Regions from separate parts of the Homo sapiens genome. Here region 2 is linked to region 1. Evidence: fine-mapped expression QTL. A gene starts in region 1. The other region holds a variant in brackets. All regions are shown on one strand. Distances are from middle to middle. Region 1 holds the start of PERP (p53 apoptosis effector related to PMP22). Region 2 has its middle 61 kb from the start of SIMALR.

The links. PIP is the estimated chance that this variant, and not a neighbour inherited with it, causes the effect.
Region 2: its variant is fine-mapped to the expression of PERP in thyroid (GTEx, PIP above 0.99).

What each region holds. Positions count from the first base shown.
Region 1 is chr6:138,105,929-138,108,841 of GRCh38, forward strand. It overlaps PERP (p53 apoptosis effector related to PMP22), which reads right to left and starts at 1,491. Exons shown (of 3, transcript NM_022121.5): 1 at 1,199-1,491. The coding sequence starts at 1,412. RefSeq lists a silencer at 1,620-1,669.
Region 2 is chr6:138,005,820-138,008,732 of GRCh38, forward strand. No RefSeq gene overlaps it. Among named protein-coding and RNA genes, the nearest start is that of SIMALR, 61 kb to the left of the region's middle. The variant C/T (reference allele first, on the strand shown) is at 1,494.

The sequences.
Region 1 (2,913 bases):
CAGTGTTTACATTTTATTACCTGGCTAATGGGGACCATGCTTCCTTTTGTGGGGAAGTGACGTCCAAAGGATTACACAAAAGAAAGGGCACCAAGTTGCTGATATAGTCCCCCGGAAACACAAATAAACAGGATTGGGTTGGAAGCCCTGGGCCACTTCAAAGAAAAAAATCAAGTCAATGGTAATAGTAAGAAATGAAAACAGGCAGGGTAGCTTGCTGTCTGTGTTTAAAACTATTAAACCCGGTAGGTAAAGCCCATTTGGCTTTAAGGTTTTATTAGGCTCTCACAGACCCCATCTCCACCCCCACACACATTGCTAATCACAGTAGACCCCAGCTGTGATTCCCATCCACCCCCAGGAAAGGAGAGGGGGCTTCCCACTGTGAAAGAAAATGCCTTCTCAGACAAGAACTATGCTCCAGTCCTGACTTTCAGCAAGGCAAGCAGGGAGCTTCCTCCATGCTGGGAAAATGGCATACAGTACTTCACCTGCTAGGTACATTAAATTTGTCAACTCTGCTTCACGTCGCGAGTGTAGGGAATGTGTTTGCTTTTTAGATTTCAAATCGGATTAAAATAATTAAGTTTTCTAAACAACAATGCCATGCTTAAACCAAAGGACACGCCCTAGAACAAGAGCTAACAAGAACTAGCCTGACCGGTAAAGTAGACTGAAATATCTATTGAAAACGTTAACTGCTAAAACTGCCTGAAAGGGCTTTTTTAAATGAGAAAGTTTTTTCAGCTATATCAAGTTGAACGAATCCACTGATATTAGGGAAGGCACGTTATTTCAATATTTATATTTTAATCATAAGAAGAAACGAGAAGGAAGAGAAATGGGAAGAAATTTCAGGTCTCCAAGAAACTTTGTTCATTATATTTACTCATCTAAACTTGCAATGCTTGAAATAATCTTTCGTACGTAACCGACAAAACCCAGGAAAAAAACTATACAGTTTGAACTACGGCCTTTTTTTTTTTTCTGTTTCTGAGCTTGGTGTTGGCCACCCAAAGCTACTGCTGCTGCATTTGGTTCAGGTCGGATGCATGAGCCCGAGCTCGTCCTAAACAGGCATTCTGAAAAGCACTGGCTCCCCCGACCCTGTGAGGGCCCATCACGCGCGGCGGCTTTTGCAGGCCGCGGCCCCGAGGGCTTCCTGGAGGCGGCGACGGCGGCGGCGGCGGGCACTCACCGTACTCCATGAGGCTCTGACAGCCCTCCTCGTAGGACCCGCTGCCGCCGCCCTCTTGGGAGCATTTCCACCACAGCGAGGACGTCTGGCCGTGGTCGCTAGACTGCAACCAGCCGCGGCCGGCCAGCGCGATGATGTCGAAGGCGATGGCGCTGAGTAGGAGCAGGGGCAGGATCCAGCGGCAGCGCTCGCAGGCCAGGCCGCAGCGGATCATGTTGACGGGCGGCGCGGGGCCGAGCGGAGCGGAGCGGAGCGGGTCGGAGGAGCGCGCGGGACGGGCGACAGCAGAGAGTGGCCTGCGAGCGCGGGCGCCGCCACAAAAGCGAAGAGGCCGCGGGGAGGCGGCTCCCGAGGACGCCGCTCCGGGCGGCCCCACCTAGATTCCGGTGACTCAGAGCGCGCCCGCCCCGACCTGCCCTGCCGGGCCGGGGCGGGCGGGGCCGCTGGTAAACAGGCTGGGTTCTGGTGACACCGGGCGGCGGCGGAAGGCGGCCCGAGGGTCCCGCGCGTCCCACAACCCTCCAGTCCCGCTCTCCTGGCCTCTCCAGGCGCGTGTTTTGTCTTCCTGGCGCACCAACATATACACTTGTTTATCTGCACAGCGCCAGCCTAATATCTGACCCCTGATGTCGCATCGTGGGGCGGTGGTCAGCAGTGCCATATCTGAGTTTTCAGCAGTGTGAGATGGGTGTTCTAATTGCACCTGTGGATAAAGGCTGCACTCCTTTGGACGCGTGCACCCAAACCCAGAAGCCCGTCCCTGACCCCTGCTGACACAGGTGATCCCTTCCTCCTAGGCTCCGCCTTTGCACCTTGGACCGTGGCTCCCCGGGTACTCTTATCTCTTTGCATGCTGTTCTTTCCTGCTGGGTTGCCAGATTTTGGAAAGCGGAGGCGATGCTGAATTTATCTGTGTATCCTTAGTGTCCGGCACCGTGTTTGGATCTCAAGGGGAGCTCAGTGAATTTGATGAATGAACATGTAATTTAACAAATGCTCGCTTCCTTTCGGAAAGGCTTCATCTGGCTTCCCCAGATAATTTCATGTCGCCTCTGCTGCAGTCCACTTCCTATCACGAATCTCTACCTATTTAAACTGCACTCTCTCTACTCTTCATTTACTATTTTGAGGTTTTTCCAAATAAAAATCATACGTCAGCATGCAACCTGCATTTAGGATCCCCCCTTCGGTGTCCTGGGCTAGCTCCCGTCGCAGTTCTGACTCCTAAGATGTGACAGGAAGGGTGGGGTGGCAGCCAGGTGTGCCGCTGAGGACAAAGGAGTTCTCAGTGTCAGGCACCTCGGTGGCCTTGGGAAAATCACTGAAACATCGTATGGGGGTCATGTCTTAACCCTGTACCTCCAAAGATTTCTTCTGAATCCCCTATTTTTTCTGTTAATTTAATATAAAAGTGGGAACTACTTAAAAATATTTTAAATTGTATTCCAATTTGATATTCTCAATAGAAACAGAATACTCTTTTGACTTATGCCATTTTCTGGCAATTCTTGAGGACGAATAAAAGCATGGAGAAAGTATCTGAAAATACATGAAATAATTTCCCTAGCCTTCATTTTACATAATTCAAGTTTTACATAAACCACGTCATATATTTTTATTACAGGAAAATATTTTCACTTTCAAAGAACACAAGAGGGTGTTCTGCCAAAAGTTAATTTTGTATCGTGGAAGCTGTGTGAAGAAAATGGTGATAT
Region 2 (2,913 bases), 100 kb before region 1:
TTAAAGAAAAAAGAAAACAGAGTTTGAAAATGTTAAAATCAAAATTTCCCAGATTCACAGTTTTGTTTAGGTTGACTTCATCGTTGTGAGCGCCATTGAAAGACACAGGTGTGGCTCACTCGAAAGTTTTCAGAAAGAGTAAACAGATTTTAACACCTGCCACTGATAGAGTAGGGAGGGGCCTAGGGATTGGTAAAAAGGATATTGACGGTGAAACACCCATATGAAAAGAAACTTCACAAACGTAATTTAAGTCTTTCATGATTGTCTATGACAGAGTGGTGGGGGAGGGGGAAGTGTTCTCAGAAACAAGGCTTTCCTACAGTAGGCAGAGGCATGAGAAGATTCAGGCACATCACTTCCTGCCAGGGATACTGTCAAGCAAACCCCAACAAAAGCAAGAAAATGATCATATTCCTTTTTTTGTAGTATTGCCTTCTCCAAGAGTCTATTTCAGCAATCCACTCTAGCCACCAGGTTGGAGCAAAAGAAATGAATACTTTATTCAGCTGACTCTGCACAGAAAATTAGCTCACGATATTTAACCAACGTAAGATACCCTCTTAAAGAAATTCAGCAGACAGTAACACTATAAAAAGATTTGCCAAAAAAAAAAAAAACACCAAGAGTTAATAACCTGAGTGGTATTTTCATTTTATTATGAAGAACAGAAAAGCTAGAAAAAAAGAAATAAAAACAATAGTCAAGAAACCATAAAGAAATACAATCATAAACTCCTGATCCTTTGATGGTAGGTAAGACAGAAGAGAAGGGACCCTTTCCCTGAGGGCCAATCTTGCAGCAGACCTGAATTACGAGGTGAGTTCTCCACCCTCTGCCTGGGAGCTGATGAGAGGGGTGTGATACTGTTTATAAGGCACTGGCTAGTATTATAAACTTCCCTCACTTCTATAATCTAGTCAATGTCTACATCTATTTCATTTATTGATACTAAGACATTCTTTAGAAGTTTCTACTTTAATTTTTTTCCTGCACAGTACACCTTAATTCTTAACTTTATAATTTTCTATTCTTCCTAATCACAAAAAAGTGTTCAGATAAGAAAAGCATTTTGAGAACAATTTCCTGTTAAGTTATTCAGGATGGTGTTTGAGCAACAAAGCTATTATAGAAATCAGGTTTTAAAGCATTTGAAATCAGCTGCCCTTGGCAGCCCATCTTTCCCAAGGAGCCCCACGGTGCATACACCTAACTGCGACCATTCAGTTGCCCTTGTCCTCTCCCTAAAATAAATCCCAATTGTACTCCCACCTCCTTCCAGCTTCCTTCTGCCCCCTCGTGGCAGAGACCAAAGTTGCCCTCTAACTTTGAATGTTCTCTAGGGCCCAGCACCACTTTTAAAAAGAGCAGTTTCTGGCTTTTCAAGGGTCCTCTCTGTCCCTGGGATTTTTAGGTGTCCCATGGGGCATTGCAAATTTGCTGAGTCAAAGTTTGTCCAGCCAGATTTGCACAGCACGTGGTGGTGGCGGTAG[C/T]TTACTTTGAGCTAATGCTTCAGTCTGCTTCACCAGGCAAAAGATGACTAATCTGGCCTATGAGAGAGGAATGAAGCTGGGCATTGTATAGTGTGATTTTGTGATGCAGGAAAGTCAGTTTGATGTGTGTTAGCCATAGTGAGACTACCCTAGGATGGGGCGGTGCCCACTTTACTCAAATCAGATCCAGGCAGGGGAGTCAGACCTAGCAAATTACACCATAGAAAATTATGCCTCCGAATGAGAAACTGCAATCTCAAGAGTGGGTAATTAGGGTTCCTAATTGCACAACATTATTGAAAGTTTCTCCCACCTCCTTCAGTGAAATAGCATGCCTCCCATAGATCCAACCCTAAAGGTATACTGAAAGAGATTTGGCTAGCTCTAAAAGAAAATCAAGTTGTATTCAAAGAAACTCAATAACAGCTACAAATGAAGCCACAGTTCTACTCTCTCTTCTACGTTGCACTCGGGCTCCCTAGAGGCAAGCTCAGTTACCCCATGCAATGATGCTAACCCAAAGGCAGGACTGGGGAAAAGGAAGAACCCAAGATACTATTTGGCGGGACACTACAGGCCAAAAGAGGAGCTGACCTTGACCTGGAGCTCTCAAAGTTGGCTGTCCATTGGAAACATCTGGGGAGTGTCTAAGAATACCAAGAGCAGTGTGCCGTTGACCTGGCTCTCAGGCGACGAAGTAGGAGTGGGGGCTGATTTGTGATTTGTCTTATTTGTCAATTGCTATAATACAAATATCACATTGTCGCCAATTTTTTTTTTTTTTTTTTGAGCTGGAGTCTCGCTCTGTCACCAGGCTGGAGTGCAATGGTGCAATCTCTGCTCACTGCAAACTCTGCCTTCTGGTTTCAAGAAATTCTCCTGCCTCAGCCTCCAGAATAGCTGGGATTACAGGCACCCGCCACCACACCAGGCTGATTTTTTATTTTTAGTAGAGACAGGGTTTCACCATGTTGGCCAGGCTGGTCTCGAACTCCTGACCTCGTGATCTGCCCACCTCAGCCCCCCAGAGTGCTGGGATTACAGGCGTGAGCCACCACACCGCGCCCGGTCACACCGCGCCCGGTCACACCGTGGCCAATTTTAAGCTACCAGAAGGATGTCACTGAATACAGAGTCGGAAAGAGAATTGCAACCAGAATGAGCCAGCTCCTGCACATCACTGAAAAGACTGGGCTTAAGGAGTGAGGCCTGAGCATGGGGATATTTAAAACCTCCCCCAGGTGATTCCACTGTGCAGCCAACTTTGAGAACCACTGACCTCTCTGTGTAGCTTTCTTCCAGGCTGCTGCTGCTGGCGCCCTTCCATCGTCAACTCCACAACTCCCAGGTCAGTATATTCCCTTTATAATGCTGTTGCCACTTTTGGAAAATGTGCTTAGGGGAAGGTGCTTCTCTTCTT